Linked DNA regions of Homo sapiens. The protein of the gene in region 1 purifies or fractionates together with the protein of each later gene. This does not show direct contact. Each region holds a gene or a part of one and is shown in the gene's direction. Other genes may lie near its edges.

Region 1 (3,500 bases):
TCTAGTACAAGTGAATTTTTATTCTTAAACATAGGTGTGTTGGCTCTTTTTTTAAAAGATGCGCTCTACCTGAAAAGGAAATTGGATTTTAGAACTGGATGTGGTGCAGTGAAGTATTTTAGGCCCAGGTCTGTGTACACATTTTATAGAAGAATGAAGTACTCTGAAGTATTTTGGTTGCCTTTTCATTTCAACTGTGTTTTGAATTTGTCAGATCACACATATATTGTGTTATTGGGCGCTGTGGTATCTTTTATAAAACCTCTTGCTTGTGTGCAAAAGTTCCTAAAAGGAAACACAAGTAATGCCTATCCATTACTAGCATGCTATGCTGCATGCTTTACTGCCATTGCTGTATGCTTTACTGTCTTTGTAAAAATCCCCCTCTCCCCTTTTCTGGTAACTGGAAAAGCATGCTAAAAATAGTCTTATATTTTCACCCCATAAATGCAGAATCAGTAATTCCTTGGCTTAAAGCTCTTATATAATCAATATTATTGGTGGTAAATACCAAGTTTGGTATCTCATAGCTATCTTTTTTTAAAGAAATTAAGTTCTTGAAAATTTAGCCAAATCCCGTTTTATGGGAATGCTCTTTAGAATTCATTTTGTTCAGCCCCTTTGTTCTATGGTTGAGAAATCTGAGGCCTTACGAAGGTTAAGAGAACTTTCCCCGTGTCTCACAGGTAGGTAGAGGCAGAGCTGGAACTAGATATCTGGTCTGTTGACTCTAGCTCAGTGTCTTCTGGTAACTGTTGAAAATTGTCTTAGTTTGAGAGATGGCTGAAATAATGAACATAAAATGCTATTTATAATAACAAGTATATGTGAAATTTCTTATTGTAAGACTACTACCGGCTTACTGTTGAATAGTTTGGTTATAGTGTTTAGGCTAGAAATGCCTCCCACATTGGTAATAAACATTACAAAATACAATGTATTTTTAGGTAGGCATTTTATAAAATGCATTATGCCATGGTTGCTTTTGAGATAGATTGTAGTCTGGGTAGCATCTTTAAAATGTATGTGGGCTTAACTGTTGTTCATATCAGGAGATGCTCTGATTGTATAGGTGAGACTCTGTTTCTGTTATTTTTAATTGCTGTATGAAATGTGATCAGATTATTTTACTACCAACAGTTATAGTTTGAAAGTCCAACTGTATTAATTGACTGATAATATGATAATATAGAGATTAAATTGTTTGTCTTCATTCCTTATATGTTTAGAAGTTTTTGCTTTGTCTGCCTGCTTACTTGTATATGTAAGCATGAGGGAAATACACTGTTGCTAATACTGAAATTACAATCAAGTAACTAAGGCCTTGAGTTCATATGTGACACTGAATGCACTAGCTTCCTTCGTTCTATAACTAATGTACCTTAACTTCCCCCATTCTTATATTTACAAGAAGCTAAGTCATTATGTTCTGAGTGTGTGGTATGTTCCCTTAAAAAAAAATGACACTTGGAAGAAAAATGTATGAAATTCAGAAATTCCGATCAAAGAAAAGTAATTCTTTCTTTTTTTTTTTGAGACAGAGTCTTGCTTTGTTGCCCAGGCTGGAGGGCAGTGGTGTGATCTCACCTCACTGCAGCTTCCGCCTCCTGGGTTCAAGTGATTCTCATGGCTCAGCCGCCTGAGTAGCTGGGATTACAGGTGTGAGCCAACAAGCCCGGCTAATTTTTGTATTTTTAGTAGAGACAAGGTTTCACCATGTTGGTCAGGCTGGGCTCAAACTCCTGAATCCGCCTGCCTCGGCCTCCCAAAGTGCTGGGATTACAGGTGTGAGCTGCCGCACCCAGCCAAGAAAAATAATACTCTTAAATACTTAGATGTTCACCTAAAGTTGATATTATTTGGTATGGGAATTACTTTTGAACTGTAATCTTTCAGATTACACCACTTTGAAAACAAGTTTTAACAGTAGGGTAAAAATATAGTTTTTGAGGGTATTCCCAACTTGTGATCTTCTACCACTTTAGAGACATTCAAGTAATAGTTTTCTTAGAGCTTTGCACATTCCTATTCACTGAGATTTTAAAAATTTCACCTTTATTCGAGGGAAGGATCAATGCTTATTACCATTTGGAAAAACGAAGATCAGAAGGTAAATGATCTTTATTTTCTAGCTTTAAAGGGAAATTAAACCATTCATGAATAAACTTTAAAAATGTGAAGTGTCCTTTTCCTTTTCACAATACAAAAAAAATTTCAACAGATTGTGTGGTTTGTGCATTTATATCCTGTTAAGCATTAATAGCTAATCACTGGGACTTGAATTCTGATGGCAGATAGTCTCTTGCTTAGTGAGATGGAGTTAACTATTTTTTAGTAGGAAGTGAGAACAGCTGATTTTCATGCCACGTTTCATAGCCCCACTTTTGGTAGACTACCACCACGCTTCTTCGCGTAAGCAGTGGCATCTTGGGAATGAATGCCCAGCCGCTCGTGGGTTGGTGCAAAGAAGTATAAACATATATCACTAAGGAAAAAGAAAGTTTGTCTTGCCCTTCTGACACAGTGTGTGCACTTCAGGCAATTTTTGGAAAATATAAAAAATTCCAAATTCTGCCTTTCAGCAGCATCAATTGCTAGGAACATTTCATTCATTTCCCTGTAATATTAATGTTCTTTAAGCATAATCACTAATTATAAGTTGTATCCTATTTTTTTCCAGCTTAATTTCTGTGGTTTATTGAAAACCAAGTATAAATGTGACTAAAAGCATTTTGCTTTGTTTTTATAGTTAACTTTCTTAAGGTTATGGACATTTTATAATGTAACATTTGATTGGCCTGGCCTCTTGACAATTCCCTTCTAGTTATGCATATCCTCCTGTTGCCACATTTCTTGTTTTAAAACTCAGTTTCTTGTTTTCCAGTTGTTGCTATGTATAACACCCATCTTGAAAGAGAGTATATAGGAAGTTATTCAGATAACTTTTGTAGTAGTGATATTCAACTATAGCAGTACCTTAACTCATGATGAGCTTAGGAACATAAAAGATAATTGTTGCTTGAATAGCACCCCCAGAGATACTGACCTAATTGGTCTGGGGTGGAGATCTGGCATGGTAGTTTTTTTCAAGCTCCAATCATCGGCCAGACAGTTGCTTTATGTAGGTTTTTAAATGCCAAAGGCAGATATGAAGTAGATTTAATTAAGACTTGACTTCAGCAATACAGGGGAACTTAAAATACTTATTTTTCTTTAAACTGCAGGAGTCACTGTTAGGTATTGCTTAAAAAAAATTGCATAAAAGCTTTGCTTGTCAAGTTAGGATTGCTGGAATACCACTAAAGATTTTTGACTTGTGAATAAATGAGCTGTCATCGCAAAAAGGCGATTTGAGAAATGTGGGCTTCAGTATTAATTGCCATTTTGCTGACACCCAGTGTACCTACCTACCTGAGAAATTTATTTTGTCCATCATGTATTTCTCAAAGCAAAAGGTGGTTTTCAAGTATAATGTCGTTTTCAACATGCTTATTACTTAG
Region 2 (3,968 bases), on another chromosome or scaffold:
ACAAAAACGACTCTTCCATCCGGGAGACTTTGGGATTTCCGGGCTACAGGACTCCACCCCCCACAACCTAGTCAGTCCCACCACCAACGTTCGGCCTGGGGCACTTCCCAAATGCCTAAGGACGCAGGGGGTTGCGCTAGTAAGTTGAAGGCCCAGGGCACCCCCTTTCTAGGGTTGACGACCCGTAAAGACTCCTCATTGGCCCCGCCCTCTACGCCCAGTATCCTATTTTTATTTTTTTTTTTAATTATTGGTTTCTTAAATAGAGCCAGGGTATCGCCATGTTGCCAGGCTCGTCTTGAACTCCTGGCCTCAAGCAATCCTCCCCACTCGACCTCTCAAAGTATCGAGATTACAGGCGTGAGCCACTGTGCCCGGCCGTCCCCATGCCCAGTCTCCTATTAAATCCCGCTGGAGGTGCCTGGCTCCCTGGGGCTGGGTGGAAAGGGTAGTGTAGGGGAAGTTGCCCTCCGTCCCAGCCCAGTTTAGGAGCCGGCGACCTCCTCTCTCCTTCGGCTGCTCCTCGGACGTTCTTGGCTCAGGGCAGCGAAAACTGTCGAAGACCTGCGGGCCAGGGACTGCTGAGCACCTCCATCCAAGGTCCCCAATGCTTTTCTCCATCTACCCTTTAGAGTGGGTGTCACGATTGCCACTGGAAAGGCTAAGTGACTTGCCCTAGGTCACATAATTTAAATGGCAGAACTGGAGTTTCTCACAGAACCTGTCCCGACTTAAAGCCCTTTGCTTAGGCCCCATTTAACTTCCTCAAACCTTAACTTAGGAGAGTGCAGGCGCTGGGGACCGCAGAGTCATTTTTGTTGCCCAGCGGTGCCGTCGCGTGCAGCTTTGGGCCCAGGTGCAGAACCCAACCGCGCATCCCCAGCGCGCACTTCGTCCACCCGGCTGCCAGAGCGGACACATCGGTCCGGCCTCGGTTTCCCCCTTCTGAACAAAAGCGCGCACAGTGTGCTCCCCGCACCAAGCCGGGACTGTGGCCCCCTTTCCCCGCTTCCCGGACCCTCCTCTGGGGACAGACGGACCGCGCGCGTCCTTGCCGCGGCGGCGGGTCGGGTGGGTGGGGTTTGCTGCACTGCTGCTGCGGCGGCGGCGGCGCCAGTGGGTCCTCCGGTGACTCTGGGGCGGGGCTGTGGGGAGGGCACGGACTGACAGACGGACTCCGGCGGAATGGGGGGTGTGGCTGCTCCGCCAGGGTCCCCAGGGTGGGAGAGCGGCTCCGCGGCCACCGATGCCCGGACCCCCTCTGTCTTCTGCTAGACATGCTCTTCCTCTCGGTGAGTTGTTTTGCTGTCGTCGCGGGCCGGATTCGTGGCCTTAGTCACGCCCCGGGGGAGGAGGAAGGAGCCGGGCCGCTTCGATCTGTGTGGCCTGGATAGGGCAGGGCAAAGGGGAACTGACCCGCTTCGCTCCCGGGCCTCCTCCTTTTGGGGCATGTTGATCCGCGGCTGCGCTCCATGTTCCAGTTTCATGCAGGCTCTTGGGAAAGCTGGTGCTGCTGCTGCCTGATTCCCGCCGACAGACCTTGGGACCGGGGCCAACACTGGCAGCTGGAGATGGCGGACACGAGATCCGTGCACGAGACTAGGTTTGAGGCGGCCGTGAAGGTGATCCAGAGTTTGCCGAAGAATGGTACGTGCGCTGGGCCCCGGCTGTAGACGCCTCCTGCAGAGAGCCCCAAAGCCCCCTTTCACTTTCTGGTTCTAGTGTTGTTTATTTAGCCTTTTTTTCTGTGTAGGAGCCATGTAGTGGAAGGGGAGCTATTGAATATGAATTAATTACCTTTTGATCTTCCAAACCGGAGAAAAATCTAATATCCAGATTTTAAGTACTTCATATTGTTGAAAACAAAAGTCTTGTCACTTAATGACTGCGGATTTGGGTGTGTTAAAAAATAAATCCGGGCCGGGCGCGGTGGCTCAAGCCTGTAATCCCAACACTTTGGGAGGCCGAGGTGGATGGATCACCTGAGGTCAGGAGTTCAAGACCAGCCTGACCAATATGGTGAAACCCCGTCTCTACTAAAAAATACGAAAATTAGCCAGGCTTCGTGGCGTGCGCCTGTAGTCCCAGCTACTCGGGAGGCTGAGACAGGGAAATTGCTTGAACCCGGGAGGCAGAGGTTGCAGTGACCCGATATCGTGCCACTGCACTCCAGCCTGGGCGACAGAGCCAGACTCCATCTCAAACAAACAAACAAACAAACAAACAAAAATCTAGGCTGGGGATGCCTAATGCCACACACTCATAGGGTCTACCAGCTTAAGCGTTTTGAAAACTTTTGATATGAAGGGACAGAAAAGAAAGAATAACTATAGTCAATTGTGAAGTAATTTCTATTTTAATAAATATATATTTTCTACCTTTTTATTTGCTATTCCATTGTATAATGTTCTTTTTTATACTCATATTGGACCTTCTTTGCAGCTGGTGAGAAAAAAGTCATTCCAGTGGCTGATCTCCTTCTTGTATTTAATGTGCTATTTCTCTGGCTGCTTTTTAGATTTCTTTTCTATCTTCGGTTTTCAGCAATTTGACTAGTAGATGTGGTTTTTCTTCATATTAACCCTGTTCACGATTTGCAGAGCTTTTTGAATTTGTAATTTTATGTCATAGACCAATGTGAAGTTTTTGGCCATTAAATATTTTTCTCTGTTCTAAATGCAGAGTCTTAGAAGCAAGACGTACTTTTCAATTCATATCTTTCTACATTATATGAATTATATTTCACAATAAACATATTTATTTCTTTAGAGATGGAGTTCCGCTCTTGTTGCCCAGGCTGAAGTGCAATGGTACAATCTCAGCTCACCTCAACCCCCACCTCCCAGGTTCAAGCGATTCTTCTGCCTCAGCTTACCCAGCAGCTGGGATTACACCCGTGCGTCACCATGCCCGGCTAATTTTGTATTTTTAGTAGAGACGGGGTTTCTCCATGTTGGTCAGGCTGGTATTGAACTCCCGACCTCAGGTGATCTGCCCTCCTGGGCCACCCAAAGTGCTGGGATTACAGGCATGAGCCACCGCGCCCGGCCCAATAAACATATTTAGAAAGTAATTATAGGTGCTACTACTGTGCCACAGTTGTAAAACTAACTGAATACAACAATAATATGTTACTATAGTATTTAATATCATGATTTCTGTTTTCATTAATTATCATTAATTATCAATAATTTCAATAATTATAGGTAACAAATATTCAACACATCATTCAATAAAAATTCATTAAATGCAGATTCAGAAATTTTTAAAAACAAATATACACAAAATAGTGTTCCATTTGTAATTTCTTTCCTTCTATGGTGTTGTCTGAACCTTTTGTAATTTCAAACATTCTATTGGAGGAGGGCATATGGGGGACTGAAAGATAAGAAAGAACAAATAAAATATAAAAAAAAGCATGAACTTATTTAGGTATTGATTTTTTAAGTCCCTAATTATTAGTGTTTATAGAAAGGTATGATTCTAAGAGTTTTATGTAAGTAGTATGTTTATACTTTCTTCTAAAGCACACGTTTTTATAGTTTTTTGAAAATTGGTAAAGCTAGACTGATGTCTCTAGGCCACTATGCCTGTTGACATTATGTACCACTTATTAGGAAACCTGTATAAAGTACAGTTTGTATGTACATAACATTTAAGAAAGTATTGCAAAGTTAACATACCCTATCGGCCGGGTGCGGTGGCTCACGCCTGTAATCCCAGCACTGTGGGAGGCCGAGGCAGGCTGATGCTGAGGCGGGCTGATCACGGGGCTGGCGGATCACAAGGTCAGGAGATTGAGACCATCCTGGCTAATACGGTGAAACCCCGTCTCTACTAAAAATACAAAAAATTAGCCAGGCGTGGTCGTGGGCGCCTGTAGTCCCACCTACTCGGGAGGCTGAGGCAGGAGAATGGCGTGAACCCGGGAGGCGGAGCTTGCAGTGAGCCTAGATCACACCCCAGCC
Region 3 (3,940 bases), on another chromosome or scaffold:
AGACAGCGGTTGCCACAGCCAGCAGGAAGATAGAGGAGGGGCTACTGGCATCCAGTGGGTAGAGGCGGGGGATGTTGCTCAACACCCAGTGGTGCACAAGACACCCCCCAGCAGAAAATGATCCAGCCTCACCGTCAGTAGTGTCGCAGTTGGGAAACCCCGACTGTCCTCTGCTAAGTGTGTACTGAAAGAGGATCCTGAAGGAAGGGGCAGGTTCCCTTCGCATTGCCCAGACAGGAAATACAGACGGGGAACAGGAGCAGGGAATCTGCCTGGCTGTACCCCAGATTCCTCATCTGTGCAATGGGAGTGATGATGGTAGCACCTACGCGATGGGAGTGTGGTGCGAAGGAGCGTTAAGTGGGTGCCAGCTCTTACTACTGGCAGGAGCCCAGGGCTAGGGCCCAGCAAAGGGGTGGACACTGAGCGCCCCTTCCCAGCCACCCCTTGCGCCGGGCCCGGCATCCTCCTGAGTGCGGCTGGGAAAACCCAGGAGGCCCCGCGGCCTGGCCCCCAAGCAGGCCTGGCCTCGGCCGCCCAGCGCCAGGCCTTATGAATGACGCCGGCGGCGGCCGGGCGACCTCTGACCCGCGCGCCGGCCGCGCCCCTCCCCCGCTGGCAGGTGGACAGCGGCTGCGCCGGGCAGGCCGCGGCGCCAACTCCGGCTGGCCGACAGCCGCTGCCGCACTGAGCGGGGGCGGGGGACTGCGGCGCGCGCGGGGCCGGCCGGGCGCCCGCCGGGGCCGCCTCCTGAGCCTCGGAGCGCTGCGCGGCCGCCAGCCAGCCTCCGCCGCCCCGCCCCGCCGGCCCGGGCCCGCAGACTGCGTCTCCGCCCCGCCCTCTCACCCCCGGATTGACACTGAGCGTTCTGCTGGGGGGCTTGGCGGACCCGGCACCTCCGCCAATCGGCGGCCTCGCAGGGCGGACCCCGGGCCCAGTCCAGCGTCTCGGCCAATCGGACGCGTCTGCCCGCCCAGCTGCGGCCTCGCGAGCGAGTGAATGGCCGAGAGTCCGCGGTGCGTGTCCCGAGGCTGAGAGCCTATAGTGGCGCGGGAAGGTCGCGGGAGGGCCAATGGGAGGCGGCGCTGAGCCGTCAGTCAGGGCGGCCTAGGCCAATGAGCGGCGGGCTGCGGGGGCGTCACAGACAGCGGCAGAGATCTTGGGCTGAGGTTCCCGGGCGGGCGGGCGCGGAGAGACGCGGGAAGCAGGGGCTGGGCGGGGGTCGCGGCGCCGCAGCTAGCGCAGCCAGCCCGAGGGCCGCCGCCGCCGCCGCCCAGCGCGCTCCGGGGCCGCCGGCCGCAGCCAGCACCCGCCGCGCCGCAGCTCCGGGACCGGCCCCGGCCGCCGCCGCCGCGATGGGCAACGCCGCCGCCGCCAAGAAGGGCAGCGAGCAGGAGAGCGGTGAGTGCCCGGGCTGTGACCCCGATCTTGGCCCTGCGCTGCCAGCCCTGGCCTTGTCCATCATCGCCTGGCCCCTCCCCCTACGGGGCCCCTCATCCTCTCTGCCTACCCCCCAGCGCCCCTTGCCCCGGCCTGTCCAAGGCTGGGGCCCGCGGGCCCGCAGAGTACCCCCTGTAGGGGTCCCCTTCCCCTAGGGCCGCCCCATGCTGCAAAGACCGTGCTCCCCCCCAGCTGTCACTGCCAACCATGGCACGTATGACCGCTGGGGCCCCACATGGGCCCCTGTCACCAGCCTACCCCCTCCTTTCCTGGCCCCTCTTCCCAGATTCTAATCCCCCCACTTCCTCACTCACCTCTCTCACCTATGGGATCCTCTGCCTGACCCCGACCCAGGTTTCTACCAGTTTGGGAATGCGATGAGGTCTGTCTGCCTCCACCGCGCAGGGACCTTGGCCACTTGCTGACCACACCCCTCCCCCCTCCAGCCCCCGCCATCTTTCTCCTGCCCTTTCCCTCTTCACCTTAGCACAGCCCCCCCTTCCAAACCCATCCTGCCCCCTGAACATTTCCCAGAGCCACCTCCAGCATTATTTTTTTCTTCTGTGTCACTTGGCATGGGGGACAGGATCTTTCTGGGTCCCTCTGCCTCTCTCATCCTGTCACTCTGTCATTCTGCTGCTCTGCTTGTGCTCCGTCCTCCAAGCAAGCGTCTGTCCCTGGCTGGGGTAGCAGACTGTTTATGAACGTAGAGAATTGCTTCAGTGCTTCCAAAGCCAAGTTTGAGCTGGTCTTGTTGGGATTCATTGCATCCTCTTTCCTGCGTTGGGGTAAGGGGGTGGTGGCAGAGCCCCCTCTCATTTCCTGTCTTGCAGTGAGCTCTAGGCTCCATGGAGGGCCCCTCAATAAATGGTCGTTTCACAACTGAGGCTCCGTCATTCACCCAGTCCCTGGGGCTTCTTCCACCACTCCTGGCTTGGGATGAAAAGTGTCTGGGTTTAGCGAGGTTCATTCGGTTCTAACTGAGATGGTCAGAAAGAGCACTGGGGAGGAGGAGGCAGTCAAAGAGAGTAATGGGTGACGTCTAGTGATTTGCTTTGACGTCTAGTGATTCTGATCATTCCCAGGGCTCAGCCAGAGAGAGACCTGTTTCACCCACTTGCCCACACATTAGGTTGGTCTTTTCCAGCCAGCCAGAGAAAGAGATTCTCTATCTGGAAATACCATCAGAAATGGTCTTGAACCCCATTCCCAATTTTTACAGCTCTTAAATTGTTGTCACTCCAGTCTGAAAGCTGGAAGGCAGCTGGGATCCCCTGTCCACTTACCCAGAAATAGTCGGAACTATTGGTCGAAAAGGAAGGCCAGTTTTTGGTCTCAAACCCCAGCATCTGAGTTTCCTGAATGCCCCCTCCCAGAAAGGTATGAAAGCCAGGGAACTTTATTCCCATACGGATTCAAATAGCAGAACTCAGAGTCACAGAGCGATCATGAAGAGGCCTGACATGTCACCAATGGGTGGGGGCTGGGGAGGGAAATGCCTGTAGCTGAGTGCCTGATGACAGAGGAGCAGGTGGGTAGTGTCCAAAAAAGGTCTGGGCATGAGCTTGGAGGGGACTTGGCCGGGGGGGGAGGAGTCAGGCCCCCAGCAGGTGAGGCCAGCTGGGAGGTGGAAGGTAGAGGCAGGCAGCTATATATTGCGGTAGCTCAGTTGAAAGTTGGGGAGATGACAGTCCTGGAAAACCTTCAAGGCTATCAGACACATGTGGTGGGGGGTGGAAAGCCACACAAGAAAAAGGATCCCAAGAAAAAGATCAGAGGCTCTGGAAGGAACCACTGATTCTCTCAGAGCACAGGTCAGACACCCAGGAATGAATGATCATGGTAAAATAGAGCTACTATTTATTGGGCATCTAGGCTGTGCCACAGGCTAAATGGCCAGGCGGATAGAGATACCTACTCTGGTGACTTTCATAACGGGCTGTTATCCAAATTTTCCAAAGGAGCCCTCTGGTAGAAATGACATCCATGACATAGATGATGTCACAGAGGCAGGATTCACATCCAGATCCATCTACCAGCAAACTTCTTGGACCCCAGAATTCCCCGACTTTGACATTTTTCAGCAGCCTCCCAGATTTTTACTCTATCATATTTTCTTAATTTAAAATAATAAAAGTTTTACTCACTTGTGTTCAGATGTAAACTTGGAGCTCATTCTAAACAATAATATAAATGAAATCATGGGATTGCCATGCCAGTTATATTTTCTCTGATACGCATTAAATACAGTGTAACTAGATAAATGAAACATCCCGAAAATCATGTCATGTTCTGCCAATGGGACTATGTCACACGTTGAGAAACGCCCGAAGCTGTACTTCCTCCCAGAGGCTCCCAGAGAAGGAAATAAGATGAGGAAGGAAGTCCCTCTTTGCTTTGAGGCGCTCTGATTCTGAGAGGATGGAGTTAGACAAAATTTGCCCTCTTAGAAGGGTGGGGCAGGGGCAGGGGCAGTAGCCAGGCCAGCCTGCAGGGGGCA
Region 4 (3,500 bases), on another chromosome or scaffold:
TCAGCTCACTGCAACCTCTGCTTCCCGGGTTCAAGCGATTCTTCTGCCTCAGCCTCCTGAGTAGCTGGGGTTACAGGTGTGCACCACCACGCCCAGCTAGTTTTTTGTTTGTTTGTTTGTTTGTTTGTTTGTTTGAGACTGAGTTTTGCTCTTCTTGCCCAGGCTGGAGCGCAGTGGCCCCATCTTGGCTCACTGCCACCTCCACCTCCCAGGTTCAAGCCGGTTCTCCTGCTTCAGCCTCTTGAGTAGCTGGGATTACAGGTGCGTGCCACCACACCCAGCTGATTTTTGTGTTTTTTAGTAGAGATGGGGTTTCACCATATTGGCCAGGCTGGTCTCAAACTCCCGACCTCAGGTGATCCACCCATCTCGGCCTTCCAAAGTGCTGGGATTACAGGCGTGAGCCACCGTGCCCAGCAAGAAAACATTCTTAACTTTGTGGGAGGTAAAAAGATGCAATGATTCTCAGTCTGGGGTCTAAGATTTTTGCTTAGCAAATGGTCCATGGGTTGAAAAAGGTAGAGAAAATGTGGCTTAAAGCCCTAAGTCTGAGAGTGACCTGTCCACCTCCCAGGTTCTGGGTCCTCTCCTGGGCTGGCTGGCCAGAGATGTTTCCGCTCGCAGGGCCCCTGGTAGGCAGAGGGTCTGTGGGTGTGGGGCTGCCTGCTGGCGGGCAGATGCAGAGGCCTGGGGCCTGATTCCAGGCCTGGGGTTCCAGAGGCAAGCTTTGCTCCTGCCTCCTCCCCCATGGACGCTCTTCTTGAGTGCATTTCTGCATGTTCCCGTGTGCACGTTCTCTTATCTGACTTGGTCATCTGTCTCTTAGCTCTGTGGAGGGGCCCTCTGGTATGTGTGTCCCTGTCCTTCTGGGGCGTGGATGGTGCCTGGGACCCAGCTGGCAACCAGTTGAAGACGTTCTCCTTGGAAGCTCTTGGCCCTGAGGACTTTGCCTGGGGCATTGGCCCTGCCATGGCGTTCCGGAGGGCCGAGGGCACGTCTATGATCCAGGCCCTGGCCATGACGGTGGCCGAGATCCCCGTGTTCCTGTACACGACGTTTGGGCAGGTAAGGATCAGGGTGGGTTGTACCTCTGGTCTATGAAACACTTCCATGCTCAGCCAAGGGCTCCTCCGTGTCCAGGAACGCTGAGCCCTCGTTCTTGCTTTGCCAAACCTCTGGTGTCTCCTCTTTGGACTGGGTTTGTTGTCTGAGGCTTCAGGCCTGTTCTTTAGCCTGAGACTATACGAACTCTTTTTTTTTTAATTAATTAAAAAAATTGTATTGGCCGGGTGCGATGGCTCACGCCTGTAATCCCAGCACTTTGGGAGGCCGGGACGGGCGGATCACCTGAGGTCAGGAGTTCAAGACCAGCCTGGCCAACATGGTGAAACCCTGTCTCTACTAAAAATACAAAAATTAGGCGGGTAGGCTGGGCACAGTGGCTCATGCCTGTAATCCCAGCACTCTGGGAAGCTGAAGCAGGTGGATCACCTGAAGTCAGGAGTTCAAGACCAGCCTGACCAATATGGTGAAACGCTATCTCTACCAAAAGTACAAAAATTAGCCAAGCATGGTGGTGTGCACCTGTAGTCCCAGCTACTTGGGAGGCTGAGACAGAATTGCTTGAACCCAGGAGGCGGAGGTTGCAATGAGCTGAGATCATGCCACTACACTCCAGCCTGGGCGACAGAGCGAGACTCCGCCTCAAAAAAAAAAAAATTAGCTGGGCATGGTGGCAGGTGCCTGTAATCCCAGCTACTTGGGAGGCTGAGGCGGGAGGATCACTTGAACCCAGGAAGCGGAGGTTGCAGTGAGTCGAGATCGCACCACTGCACTCCAGCCTGGGCAACAGGGTAAGACTCCGTCTCAAAAAAAAAAAAGTTTTTCGTAATAGAAATAGGGCCTTGCCATTTTGCCCAGGCTGGTCTTGAACTCTTGGGCTCAAGCCATCCACCTACCTTGGCCTCCTAAAGTGCTGGGTTTATAGGCATGAGCCACTGCACCTGGTCCTATATGAACTCTTGACCTCAGTTACTCAGTCTGTAAAAGGGGTCAGTGCCCTCCCTGACAACTCACATGTTTGTGGCTGACTGGGATCTTGACCGAAGATCTGCCTTGTGGGGTACAGTCCCATCTGAGGGGCTCCCAGGCCTGGGGGGCAGAGGGTGAGGTGCAGCAGTAGGAATTGTTCAGATGGGGTGGCAGGTGAGTGAGTGTCATCATCTTTGAGGCATCACTGAGAAATGGGGGTCAGCAGATCTGGGTTTCATGTCTGCCTCTGTCACCTTGAGTATATGTCTTCATGTGGGTGAACCTCAGGTTCCTCGTCTGGAAATGACAGGGACTCAGATGGGTACCCCAGGCTAGGTCCTAGTGCAGTGCCGGGCACAGCTGGTGCTTGTTCACTGCGGCTTGTGTGCTCATGACTGAGGGTGCTGGCCCCTAGACCTCACCTTCTCGGCACTGGCATCTTGCCATCTTTATGTTTTTGTGGCCTGTGTTTCAGGGAGGCTGGTCAACTTCCCCGTCTAGGGTGGCTGCCTCTCAGTCTCTCATCTGGTCGGCAGATGTGCCGGAGAGCCGGTGTGTGTCCCGTCCCTGAGGTGCTCTGGGGCGGTCCTGCTGCCTTGGACCTTCCCCAGGGAGGTGTAACCGGCAGCGTCTCCTCTTCCCTGCAGTCTGCATTCTCCCAGCTACGGTTGACGCCAGGCCTGCGGAAAGTCCTCTTTGCCACGGCCCTGGGGACTGTGGCCCTGGCCCTGGCTGCCCACCAGCTGAAGAGGCGACGGAGGAGGAAGAAGCAGGTTGGTCCCGAGATGGGAGGGGAGCAGCTGGGCACGGTGCCCCTCCCTATCCTCTTGGCCAGGAAGGTCCCTTCAGTGAAGAAAGGTAGGTGTGAGGTGGTGGGCATAGGCCTGACCTGAGGTCACATCCTGGGGTCATATCCCAGCTGGGTCACTCTCTACTTGGGGATATTGGGCCAGTGTCTTCCTGTCTCAGAGCCAAGGTCTCCTGATCTGTGAGCGGGATGACAGTAGCGTCCCTCCCTCCAGTCACTGTACTGGAGGGTGATGTGGTTGGATGCGCATGCTCCATTGGTGGAGGTGGTTTTGGTTGTTCTCATTAGCTGAGGACCCTTTGGGAGCACCTTGGTCAGAGGGGGTCGGGGATGTGGCTCCTGGGTCCAGAGAGGGATGTTCCCCAGGCTGAGGAGCAGGAAGAGCCATGTGGTTCTTGAATGATGCAGTATTCCTCCCATTCCCTTCTCTCTTAAAAATTGAGGTTTAGGCCGGGCGCGGTGGCTCACGCCTGTAATCCCAGCTCCTTGGGAAGCCGAGGCGGGCAGATCACAAGGTTAGGAGATCGAGGCCATCCTGAATAACACGGTGAAACCCCGTCTCTACTAAAAATACAAAAAATTAGCCGGGCATGGTGACGGGCACCTGTAATCCCAGCTACTCAGGAGGCTGAGGCAGGAGAATGGCGTGAACCCAGGAGGC
Region 5 (3,500 bases), on another chromosome or scaffold:
TGCTCCATTTCATACCTTGACAATTGTCAGTGTGATTGCAAACTGGCTTGTTTGTGTTTCTTCTCTTTCCAGGAGTGGCTGTAAGGTGAAGAAGCATGAAACTCAGTCTCTCGCCCTGGATGCATGTTCTCGGGTGAGTCTGTGCCCATCTCCAGAATGTCTCTGAGACCAGGGGTCCTCCAGTGGGAGTTTGCATCCCCCTGGCGGGTGGTTCAAAAGGACTTTCCAATGGGTACCTGAGTACTCAGCTTTAAGAAGCCAATTTCCAGATCCTTACTGTCCCTGAAGAGAAGGCCCCTGAAGACAAGGGAACCCTTTCACAATGACTCTTTTTTTTTTTTGGTAAAATTCCCACTTTAAATGCTACAAAGATGCATCACCACAGGGTGTGAAAGTCTCCAGGGCACCGAAGGGAAGATCTGAAATACTGGTGTAGGTTCTAATAAGATAATTGACTCTAATAACTGGATGGTATTTTTCTTAAGTCAGATGGTTTTCTAATTCATTGCTTTCAACAATAGAGGAAAACCTGAGTTGTCAGCTGATAGGTCTAAAAATAATGTTTGATGGTAGATTTTTTTGGGCACATAACTTGGAAAGGGGTTCAAAGAATTGAAAGGCACTTATGTTACAGAACTACTTTCTGTTTCATCTATTGTTTATATAAATAAGGTTTCTTAATGATTATATTGATAAAAATAGAAACCAGGAATAAAATTGATGTTGACCTTTGTTACATTCTAGCAATAAATAATATCCATCCATGACCGTATAAACTAATTGCAAAACAAAGCGAAGCCCAGGCCCATCTGATTGCAATGAGATCCTTTTGTTCTTTTTAAAACTTTCTCAGTATACTTATTACAGAAATACATTCATTGGTTAATAGAGTTCAATTTAACATAACTTTTCCTCTACAATTTGGATCAGAAACTTGGTATATGGTGTAAGATGTAAAAAAGGGGTGTGATGGGGGAAATTTACAATCTGAGTTATTTTTCATCTGTTAACAAATGTGTAACATTCTCCCTCAGATTTTGCTAAAGTAGGCAGCAAGAACTATGAGAAATTTATCTTTGGTTTTCTTTAAAAAACAAAAACAAAAACCCAAAACCCATATATTTAGTGCACTGTAAAAGTTTTTAAGAATTAGTGCAATAAAACATTTTGTAATTGATATAACAACTTACTTTTGTGTCTGATAATACTTATCAAAACTTGCAATATTTTGAAAATAAGTTGTGCATTAATAAATGTGATAAGTCTCCAGCAGAAAAAATTTTAAGACTTAAAGAAAAAAGTTTCACAGAGACATTGGATAGAGACTTTTAAAAAGACTTTCAACCATGCAGATGTTTTTCATTTGGATAGTTTCTTGATGGAAGTGGGATGGAAATACAGATTTAGAGAGGAAAAGGAATAACATAAATTTCTGACTTATTCAGGAACTTGTTCATTTAAATTTACATATGGTATCAAATCACTAAGGTAACTAGATAGCATTAAGTAAATTCAATATTTAGAATATTCCAGATATTACATTCTTTGCAATTATTTAAACTTATGCCAAAAAGTTTTTAGATGTCACTTGAAAATGCAATGGGGGACATAGATTTTCAAAAAAAAATTAGGTATATGAGCAAAAAAATTGAAAACCATTGTCTTAAACCACTGAAACTGCTTGCTTATAAACTTAACCTAGAGAAGATCATTTTTTAAAACCTCAGACTCAAGTTACAGAAACTAGGTTCTATAAAACAGCATCTCACAATTGAAAGACTCCAACTTCCTCCTTGCTTTGTACCCAGGTCTGTGGTTAACCTCTCACATATCTGTATGGAGTTGTGTCTACTTTGTTCCATTCATGGGATGTCACTTTTCCCCATTGCTTGCCCTCCTAAAGGGTAGCATCTTCTCTGTTGTGTTTCTCAGGATGAAGGGGCAGTGATCTCCCAGATTTCAGACATTTCTAATAGGGATGGCCATGCTACTGATGAGGAGAAACTGGCATCCACGTCATGTGGTCAGAAATCAGCTGGTGCCGAGGTGAAAGGTGAGCCAGAGGAAGACCTGGAGTACTTTGAATGTTCCAATGTTCCTGTGTCTACCATAAATCATGCGTTTTCATCCTCAGAAGCAGGTATGGAAGCATATCTTCATCTTTCTAATGTACATAAGCATGGAAATGCCTGAAAGCCTAATAAAGCAGGAGGAGCCTTACAGAGATTAAAGAATTGGGTCACTTGAAGGATAGATTTAGGATGCTGACCTATGCTTTGCTTCTTTACCTGGAAAAGGGACACAAAGTGCTTATTGAAGTACTAGGAACGTAGAGATACTTGTGACAAGTTGTATAGGAGATGCTGATGTATGTGAGACTGCTTGAATTTCTTTATAATTTTATGTGAATATGGCCATATCTTAAAGTATAGTGGTGTGTTAGTTCATTTGCGTTGCTGTAAAGGAATACCTGAGAATGGCTAATTTATAGGAAAAAGAGGTTTATTTGGTTCATGGTTCTGCAGACTGTAGAATAAGCATGGCACCAGTGCCTGCTTCTGGTGAGGGACTCAGGAAGCTTCCAATCATGGTGGAAGGCAAGGGGGAGCAAGTGTGTCACATGGCGAGAGGTGGGAGGAAGAGGGGGCGGGGAGGATGCCAGGCTATTTTTAACAAAGATTTCACAGAAACTAACAGCAAGAAGTCGCTCATTACCACAAGGAGGGCACCAAGCTATTCATGAGGGATCCGCTCCTATGACCCAGCCACCTCCCATTAGGCCTCACTTCCAACTGTTGATCAGGTTTCAACATGAGATTTAGGGGGCAAATATTTAAACTATATCAAATGGCCTATAAATATGTCATATGTTTGACTTTTTTGTGATTGTTATACTCATTGTTTAACTTAGAGAAATAACAACTGACATGTATGGTGCCTTACCATGTACAGGCATTGTTTTAAGTGCTTTGCATATACTCATTCATAGCAAGGTGTTACCCTTTTCTCACTTCTTCAGAGAAACAAAGTAAGTCAAAGAAGTTAAGTGACTTGATTAAAGTCACTTGGCTAGGGTAGGACAGAAAAGTGGTATCTTTTTCCTCACCACAAGGTTCATGGCTGAGACATCTCTAACAAAAGATCAACAAGAGAAAAGTGTACAAATATATTTAATATAAGTTTTACATGACATTAGAGCCTCCAGAAATGAAGACCCAAAGGAACAGGGAAAACTGTACTTTTATAGATAGTTGTGCAGAAGTATAATTGGAGGACAGAAGGGTGTGATCTGTGGTAATAAACCAGGGGAACTTAGCAAGTCCTGTTTGTTCCAATTCCTCTTGGTGTCTGTGTCTTTCAGGATAAGGACATTGTTTTTCTCTGTGTACAGGGAGGACCCCTCTTGTAATGAGGTCTTATGAACTATTTTCAGGGGAAGGTCTGAGGGGTTGCTTTATGGCCTGCTTCAGGAAAGGGGGCAGGAGAGGGGCCGAGAGACC
Region 6 (3,500 bases), on another chromosome or scaffold:
CCCATTGTTCCCCCCAGGGCCTGGATGGAGCCGGGGAGCTGGGGGCTGAGGCATGCGCAGTCCACGCCCTCTTCCTTATCCTGCACAGCGGCAACATCCTGGACTCAGGCCCTGGAGACGCCAACTCCAAGCAGGCGGATGTGCAGACGCTGAGCTCCGCCTTCGAGGCCGTCACCCGCATCCACTTCCCTGAGGCCTTGGGCCACGTGGCGCTGCGACTGGTGCCCTGTCCACCCATCTGCGCCGCCGCCTATGCCCTTGTCTCCAAGTACTAGCCACGGGTGGAAGGGCAGGGAACTCGTAGGATCAGGCCAGGGAGCGGGGCAGGGAGCGGGGAAGGGGTCAGGAAGCCAGACACCTGGGTCGGTCACTGGCATGGCTGGACCTGTTCTGGAGAATGGCTCCATTTCAGTTGCCTCTTGGGGCTAACGCTCCCCACAGAGGACCCACAGAGCCAGGGCCTGCCAGCAGGCCCAGGGGACTTGGATGGCAGGAGTGGGTCTGGAAGCCCCTCACCCACGCACATTTCCCCCTCCTACAGCCTGAGCCCTTACAGCCACGATGGGGACAGCCTGTCTCGCTCCCAAGACCACATTCCACTGGCTGCCCTGCCACTGCTGGCCACCTCATCCTCCCGCTACCAGGGCGCCGTGGCCACCGTCATTGCCCGCACCAACCAGGCCTACTCAGCCTTCCTGCGCTCACCTGAGGGTGCCGGCTTCTGTGGGCAGGTCAGCGGTTAGGGACAGTCCATCTGCTGCCCTCCACTGCAGCCCCCACTGTAGTCTGGCCTGGGTGAGGACAAGGCCTCTCCTGATGGTGCCCCTGCTCCCACCCAGGTCGCACTGATTGGAGATGGTGTTGGTGGCATCCTGGGCTTTGATGCACTCTGCCACAGTGCTAACGCGGGCACCGGGAGTCGGGGCAGCAGCCGCCGTGGGAGCATGGTCAGTATAGCCAAACCCGGCCTCCTCAGGAGCGGAAAGGCCCTCTCTGGCTCTAGGTCTCTGCCCCCTGGAATGCCACCCCTCTGCCAGCAGGCAGGCCCCCTGCTGCCCTGCCAGTTCATGTCTTCTCTGGAATTCTGCTCTGCCCAACCCCCAAGCCTCGCTCCTCACTTCTAAGTAAGTAGAATTCGAATGGTCCCCAGGCCTAAGAATGTTTCTGTCTCCTGTTCCATCCAGAACAATGAGCTGCTCTCTCCGGAGTTTGGCCCAGTGCGGGACCCCCTGGCAGATGGTGTGGAAGGCCTGGGTCGGGGCAGCCCAGAACCCTCGGCCTTGCCTCCCCAGCGCATCCCCAGCGACATGGCCAGTCCTGAGCCCGAGGGCTCTCAGAACAGGTGACGTCCCTGCCCCATCACCCCTACCCTGGGCACATGATGGACTACAGAGGCAGCAGCACTGAGCACCCCTCCTCCCCCACAGCCTTCAGGCAGCCCCCGCAACCACCTCCTCCTGGGAGCCCCGGCGGGCAAGCACGGCCTTCTGCCCACCCGCTGCCAGTTCCGAGGCACCTGACGGCCCCAGCAGCACTGCCCGCCTTGACTTCAAGGTCTCTGGCTTCTTCCTCTTCGGCTCCCCACTGGGCCTGGTGCTGGCTCTGCGCAAAACTGTGATGCCCGCCCTGGAGGGTGAGTCCTAGGGGCTGCGGGGGCGCCTCTAGTCTCTGTCTGCCCCTTCCTTCCCCACCTCCTCTGGCCTTCCCTCTCATCCGAGGCATGAGCAACTTCCCCACTGTACTAATTCAAAGGCCTGGCTACAGAAGGGGAACCTGAGGCCCAGAAAGAAGGGACTCGCCAAGGGTGAGTCTCCCAAAGCCACTGGGAGGAGCTTCACACCCGTGGGATGTTCTGCACTAGAAGGGGTCAATCAGACACCACAGCAGCAAATCGAAGCCGCTGCCCTCTTCTCAGCCTTTTTTTTTTTTTTTGAGACAGAGTCTCGCTCTGTCACCCAGACTAGAGTGTCAGTGGCCTGATCTTGCTCACTGCAACCTCCTGGGTTCAAGTGATTCTCCTACCTCAGCATCCCAAGTAACTGGGATTACAGGCACCTGCCACCATGCCCAGCTAATTTTTGTATTTTTTTTAGTAGAGACAGGGTTTTGCCATGTTGGCCAGGCTGGTCTCGAACTCCTGACCTCAGGTAATCCACCCACCTCTGCCTCCCACAGTGCTGGGATTCCAGGAATGAGCCACTGAACCCAGCTAATTTTTGTATTTTTAATGGAGACGGGGTTTCACCATGTTGGCCAGACTGGTCTCGAACTCCTGACCTCAAGTGATCCATCTGCTTCTGCCTCCCGCAGTACTGGGATTCCAGGCATGAGCCACGGTGCCCAGCCCCTGTCTCACTTTAAGCAGGGCCCTACTGACTTCCCAGGGAGTGCAGTTTGGGAAGTGCTGGCTCGGGGTCACACCAGACATCAGGGTGCTGCTCCCACACCCCCTACCTCCCAGAGTGCCCAGCTGAAACCCTGACCCCACAATCTTTCTCTGTCTTCTGGGTACCAGCAGCCCAGATGCGCCCAGCCTGTGAACAGATCTACAACCTCTTCCACGCGGCTGACCCCTGCGCCTCACGCCTCGAGCCCCTGCTGGCCCCGAAGTTCCAGGCCATCGCCCCACTGACCGTGCCCCGCTACCAGAAGTTCCCCCTGGGAGATGGCTCATCCCTGCTGCTGGGTACGCCCCCAAACAAGATAAAGGGGAGAAGGAGGAGGGCACACACAGGAAGGGAGGAGGTAGCAGAAGACATGAGGAGGCTCCCAGACGATGGAAAACCTCTCAGGCCACCACTCCCAGGACCAGGCGCTCCTTCCCCCTGGGGGGGTCTGGATCCCCAGGACCCTCTGACCTCCTGGGCCTAGAAGTTGGGTGGGGGTGGTTAGCCAAGCTAGAGAGGGTGCCCCCTGGCAGCATGATGCTGGTGTGCTGCCATACAAGCAGCCAGCATGTGTGCGCTGCTGCATCTGTGTGGGGTGTGCTGCAGACATTTATTGCGGGGCATGCCCAGGTATGTATGGGCCAAGCGGGCCTGTGTTGGGCACAGGTGTGCAGCGTTTGGGGCGGTGGCAACAGGCATTCTGGCAGGAGTGCAGCTGGCCACTGGGCTGAGAGGAGAGAATGCCACAGTGCAGCCTCAGCCAGGACCTGACCAGAGGGGCCACAGGAAGATGGCAGAGGTGCGGGGAGCCCTGGGTGAGAAGACAGGAGAGCCACCTGGCCGGCCCCTGCTGACCTTGCCCTCCTTCCCCCAGCCGACACTCTGCAGACGCACTCCAGCCTCTTTCTGGAGGAGCTGGAGATGCTGGTGCCCTCAACACCCACCTCTACTAGCGGTGCCTTCTGGAAGGGCAGTGAGTTGGCCACTGACCCCCCGGCCCAGCCAGCCGCCCCCAGCACCACCAGTGAGGTGGTTAAGAGTAAGTCAGCCAGCCTAGGCAGTCCAGCCTGGGGGTGGGGGAGGCCCGTATTCCACCTCCGAAGCCCAGCTGAG
Region 7 (4,043 bases), on another chromosome or scaffold:
ACTTCTTCCTAGGGCTGTTTTGAGGATTAAGTGAAAGTCCAAGATTGTGTCTGGCACACAGTAGCTTCTCAGCAAATGTTTTCCTCCTATGTCAGGGAATGGCTCCTTTATCCCGTTTTGGGCCCATGGGTGGCCCTGAAGGGTGGGTGCTCAGGTGTTAAGTTCTGTAGATGGCATATCCTTGGGAAAAGCAAGGCAATTAAAAACAGTGAGAGGTTGCTCTGGTTAAGTTTTCTCCTATAACTTTCCCCATGGGTCAATTGGGTAGAATCTGCCATTTTCCTAATACTTACTGATGGTAGTGGCATTCGGAAGCACAATAGCTGAAGCCGGAGCTCTGAGTGGAGAGAAAGGTCTGTTTCTCAGGCCCAAAAAGAGGTTACACACCCATGGCTGTCCAGTTTGGTGGTGCAGGCCCTGAAATCAGACCAAACTGGATTTAAATCCCCAAACCTATACTCTAAGCTATGTGACCTTGGGCTAGATACTTCACCTCTCTGGCCTTATGAAGTAGGAATAATAATAATACCGTCTAGGTTGTTAGGAGTATTAAATGAGGTAAAGCACTGAAAACGTTTAGGGACTGTGTTAAATCATTAAATAAATAAAAACGGGGATGACCTTATCGGCTTGACACAGGGGATTAAATGAGATAATATATGAAGACAAGTACACGGCAAATGCTTAATTAATGTTGCTTATTTTTATGTCTGCAAACTGACTTAAAGGGGAGGCCTTTAAGAAAGACAGTGGGGCAATTTGCGCGTTGATGCATTGTAGGAGAAAATGTGCAGGGGGCCCGTTGGGACCAGAGTTCAACCAGGTAAGCGGCAGAAAACCACAAATACCTCCAGGCGTTCCTGGGGCAGCGCCGCCTCCCCAAAATCACGCAAAACTTGGTTTGCTAAGAATTGTCAGCTCTTCTAAAGGAGGCGCTTCACGCATCTCAGTCTGTGAAATGGGACCCAGGACCCAGGTAGAGGTGCGTTCTCGGCCTGGGGACCGAGTATTTTGTGCGCTCCGGTAACGCAGGAAGACAGCGCCACTGACACTCTAGAGACCAGCGGGCACCGCCTGGAGGCGCCTTCACCACTTGGCGGTTCCGGGTCCGCGCCCCACCGCGCCACAAGACTCACGCCCGAACCACGTGATCAGGGCCGTGGCTCCGCCCCGCTCCCGCGCCGCGCGCCGCTTCCGGTAGGGGCGGAAAGCGGAAGTGTGGGAGGGTCTGCGGGGCGGGCTCAGGAGGTCCGCGGGAGGATGGAGCAGTGAGCGGGTCTGGGCGGCTGCTGGCAGCGCCATGGAGACGGTACAGCTGAGGAACCCGCCGCGCCGGTGAGGGGCCACTGGCTAAGAGGACGGGCATGGGGTCAGGGGAAGAAAAGGCGGGAACTGGTTGAGGGGATACACCTGTGTGGGAGTCCCCGGAGCTAAGCGACCCAGCCGATGGGGCACCTGCTGAGTGAGGGGGGGGACGTCTGGTGGGTGAGGGTCCGGCTGAGGGGAGCATCTGCTAAGGAGGTTAGACTTGGGACCGGTTAGAGGGAGCACTCGCTGTGGTGAGACTGTGCTGAGGAACGTGGGGACAAGTTAGGGAGAGTACCTGCTGAGGCCGGGCCACTCGGGGGAACGCTATCCAAGCAGGGACTCACGGAGGTGGGGGCGAATGCTGAAGCAGGGTGAGAATCTGTGAGGGATCTCTTTAAGGGGGTGGATCGAGAACTGGCCAAGAGGAAGGCCGGGTGGACTTTCTAAGGGTCTGAAGTCCCACTTGAGGGGTGCGGTGGGGGGATCTGTGGAGGGGAAAAGCTTTGCGCCTAAGGCTGAAAGCATGCGAGGAAAGGTTGAGGGTCTAGCAAGGGAGGGGATGGTGGAGGGTAGCATTTCAGAGGATGCTGTTGGTGGTGTCCCCACTGTAGGATGGCATCTTTTATTACTGATGTTCAGTGTCTTCCTAATGGTCTTCACATCCTCCTCAGCTCTTCAGAACCTGACATTGGGAGGTAGGTAAGGAAATAAGAGGATATTTTCGAGATGGGGAGACTGAGGTCCAGAGTAGTTGGGAAGTGTTTCCTTCTTTACTCCGGGTCACTGAACCCTGCCAGTCTGTGCCCTTTTCAGGCCTCAGTTGTTTTGTGAATATCAGCACCAAATCCTAGTGGTACCTGGAATTGCTTTAGTTCAAGATCAGGATGGTGGCTGATCCTAGAAAATCTCAACTCCTGGATTTCCCTTGTGGACATCCCGGGTCTTTTGCCACTCTACCACATCTGGAGAAAAGTAGGGACTAGAGACCGAAGGAGTCATGCTTCTCTGAGGTTCAGTGTGGTTACTTCTATTTCACAGAGACGTCTGACTTCCTGCAGCAGAATGAGCTCTAAAGAAGGAAGTGTTCAGGGTGTGGAAGTGCAGGGCAACCAAGAGGTGAAGAGAAGGGATTGACTGCCTGGGCAGCACTCTTAGGGGTTGTTTGAGCTTGGGGATGTTTGAGGTGCACAAACATTGCAGAAGGCAAATAGGTGGTTGGGATGGGCTTTGGATTCACCCTAGCGTAGTGTGCTGAGACTGTAATAGTAATGATTATTACACTCATATTGCACTTACCGGGTGCCAGGCACTGTTCTAAGTGCTTTCCATGTGTCCTGCTGAAGCATATGAAATTGCTGATATTTGACCATTTTTGAACCATAAAAACCTCATTTGAACTCATTTGAACCTCACAACAATCCTGTGTGGTAGATATCCCTATATGTCTGTTTTACAGATGATAAAACTGAGATACAGAGGGTAGTGATTTGCTGGGAGAAGTCATAGCAAGTAAGAGACAGAGCTAGGATTTTAATGTCTATGGGGTCTGGTCCAAAGTCCATGTTCTTTTTTTTTTTTTGAGACGGAGTCTCACTCTGTCGCCCAGTCTGAAGTGCAGTGGCGCAATCTCGGCTCACTGCTACTTCCGCCTTCTGGGTTCAAGCGATTCTCCTGCCTCAGCCTCCTGTGTAACTGGGACCACAGGTGCGTGCCACCACGCCTGGCTAATTTTTTGTAGTTTTAGTAGAGACGGGGTTTCACCGTGTTAGCCAGGATGGTCTCTATCTCCTGACCTCGTGATCCGCCCACCTTGGCTTCTCAAAGTGGTGGGATTACAGGCGTGAGCCACCGGGCCCGGCCATGCTCTTAACTGCCTCACTCTGATGCCTCTCTAAAAGTACCCCTGTTTCACAGGTCTCTGTGTATGTTAGCAGATATTTACTATAGTACCATAGTGATCCAATTATGAATGCACACTAGTTATGTTTCTTTCTGAACTATGTTCGTTCGTTCTTCTTGGTTTCTTTCTCCGAGGCCTTGGTTTAATTGAAAAGAGGATTAGGAATCTGAGTTTTGTTTCCCCCTTTGCCTTGTCTTACATAATCTTGAGCAAAGGACTAAAGTTTCTTGGCATGCTCATTCCTGTACCTTTTGGATTTTAAAAAATGTATTAAAAGCACAAGAGAAGAGCATTGCAGGACTGGGTTCTGAAGTGGCTGGTGATTCCCAGCTCATTGTAACTAGTAGATTGCCTAATTTGAAGCAGATCAATTTTATTATCACGTGTATCAGTTTATCAGGACAAGACAAAGTGTCATGGAGTGGGTGGTTTAAGCAACGTAAATTTATTCTCTCACTGTTCTGAAGGCTAGAGATCTGAAATCAAGGCATTGTCAGAGTTGTTTCTTTTGACGCCTTTGCTTGACTCGTAGATGGCCATCTCCCTGTGTCTCCATGTTCTTCCTTCTGTACCTGTCAGTGTCCTAATCTCCTCTTATAAGGACACCAGTCATACTGGATTAGGGCATGCCCATATGACCTCATTTTATCTTAATTACCTCTTTAAAGGCCTTGTCTCCAAATACAGTCACATTCTTAGGTGGTGGGTATTAGGACTTCAGCATATGAATTGGGGTAAGCTGGGGACACAGTTTTATTATGTAAGATTTTGTCCATTTATCATGTATAGTTGTTGTAATCCATATCAAATTCTGTGTGGAAAAAGAAATAGTTAC

Evidence for each region.
Region 2: the proteins of VAPA (region 1) and ACBD5 purify together in Homo sapiens (co-immunoprecipitation; 5 studies listed by BioGRID and IntAct, with this or other methods). This does not show direct contact.
Region 3: the proteins of VAPA (region 1) and PRKACA purify together in Homo sapiens (affinity purification with mass spectrometry; 4 studies listed by BioGRID and IntAct, with this or other methods). This does not show direct contact.
Region 4: the proteins of VAPA (region 1) and MIGA2 purify together in Homo sapiens (co-immunoprecipitation; 4 studies listed by BioGRID and IntAct, with this or other methods). This does not show direct contact.
Region 5: the proteins of VAPA (region 1) and TACC1 purify together in Homo sapiens (co-immunoprecipitation; 5 studies listed by BioGRID and IntAct, with this or other methods). This does not show direct contact.
Region 6: the proteins of VAPA (region 1) and PITPNM1 purify together in Homo sapiens (co-immunoprecipitation; 5 studies listed by BioGRID and IntAct, with this or other methods). This does not show direct contact.
Region 7: the proteins of VAPA (region 1) and STK4 purify together in Homo sapiens (affinity purification with mass spectrometry; 4 studies listed by BioGRID and IntAct, with this or other methods). This does not show direct contact.

The regions. Positions count from the first base shown.
Region 1 is NC_000018.10:9,955,516-9,959,015, forward strand, and holds part of VAPA (vesicle-associated membrane protein-associated protein A), read left to right. Parts: 3' UTR 1-3,500. UniProt on the Homo sapiens protein: Endoplasmic reticulum (ER)-anchored protein that mediates the formation of contact sites between the ER and endosomes via interaction with FFAT motif-containing proteins such as STARD3 or WDR44.
Region 2 is NC_000010.11:27,237,998-27,241,965, reverse strand, and holds the start of ACBD5 (acyl-CoA-binding domain-containing protein 5), read left to right. Parts: upstream 1-1,168; 5' UTR 1,169-1,246; coding exon of another isoform or gene 1,247-1,277; coding exon 1,278-1,292; exon of another isoform or gene 1,293-1,472; coding exon of another isoform or gene 1,473-1,481; coding exon 1,482-1,647; intron 1,648-3,968. UniProt on the Homo sapiens protein: Acyl-CoA binding protein which acts as the peroxisome receptor for pexophagy but is dispensable for aggrephagy and nonselective autophagy. Binds medium- and long-chain acyl-CoA esters.
Region 3 is NC_000019.10:14,114,963-14,118,902, reverse strand, and holds the start of PRKACA (cAMP-dependent protein kinase catalytic subunit alpha), read left to right. Parts: upstream 1-1,140; 5' UTR 1,141-1,355; coding exon 1,356-1,401; intron 1,402-3,940.
Region 4 is NC_000009.12:129,039,626-129,043,125, forward strand, and holds part of MIGA2 (mitoguardin 2), read left to right. Parts: intron 1-826; coding exon of another isoform or gene 827-969; coding exon 970-1,065; intron 1,066-2,678; coding exon 2,679-2,889; intron 2,890-3,500. UniProt on the Homo sapiens protein: Regulator of mitochondrial fusion: acts by forming homo- and heterodimers at the mitochondrial outer membrane and facilitating the formation of PLD6/MitoPLD dimers. May act by regulating phospholipid metabolism via PLD6/MitoPLD.
Region 5 is NC_000008.11:38,825,236-38,828,735, forward strand, and holds part of TACC1 (transforming acidic coiled-coil-containing protein 1), read left to right. Parts: intron 1-72; coding exon 73-133; intron 134-1,932; coding exon 1,933-2,140; coding exon of another isoform or gene 2,141-2,193; exon of another isoform or gene 2,194-3,335; intron 3,336-3,500. UniProt on the Homo sapiens protein: Involved in transcription regulation induced by nuclear receptors, including in T3 thyroid hormone and all-trans retinoic acid pathways. Might promote the nuclear localization of the receptors.
Region 6 is NC_000011.10:67,495,364-67,498,863, reverse strand, and holds part of PITPNM1 (membrane-associated phosphatidylinositol transfer protein 1), read left to right. Parts: intron 1-17; coding exon 18-268; intron 269-541; coding exon 542-731; intron 732-839; coding exon 840-947; intron 948-1,184; coding exon 1,185-1,342; intron 1,343-1,427; coding exon 1,428-1,633; intron 1,634-1,752; coding exon of another isoform or gene 1,753-1,804; intron 1,805-2,515; coding exon 2,516-2,686; intron 2,687-3,261; coding exon 3,262-3,426; intron 3,427-3,500. UniProt on the Homo sapiens protein: Catalyzes the transfer of phosphatidylinositol (PI) between membranes. Binds PI, phosphatidylcholine (PC) and phosphatidic acid (PA) with the binding affinity order of PI > PA > PC. Regulates RHOA activity, and plays a role in cytoskeleton remodeling.
Region 7 is NC_000020.11:44,965,269-44,969,311, forward strand, and holds the start of STK4 (serine/threonine-protein kinase 4), read left to right. Parts: upstream 1-1,243; 5' UTR 1,244-1,300; coding exon 1,301-1,335; exon of another isoform or gene 1,336-4,043. UniProt on the Homo sapiens protein: Stress-activated, pro-apoptotic kinase which, following caspase-cleavage, enters the nucleus and induces chromatin condensation followed by internucleosomal DNA fragmentation.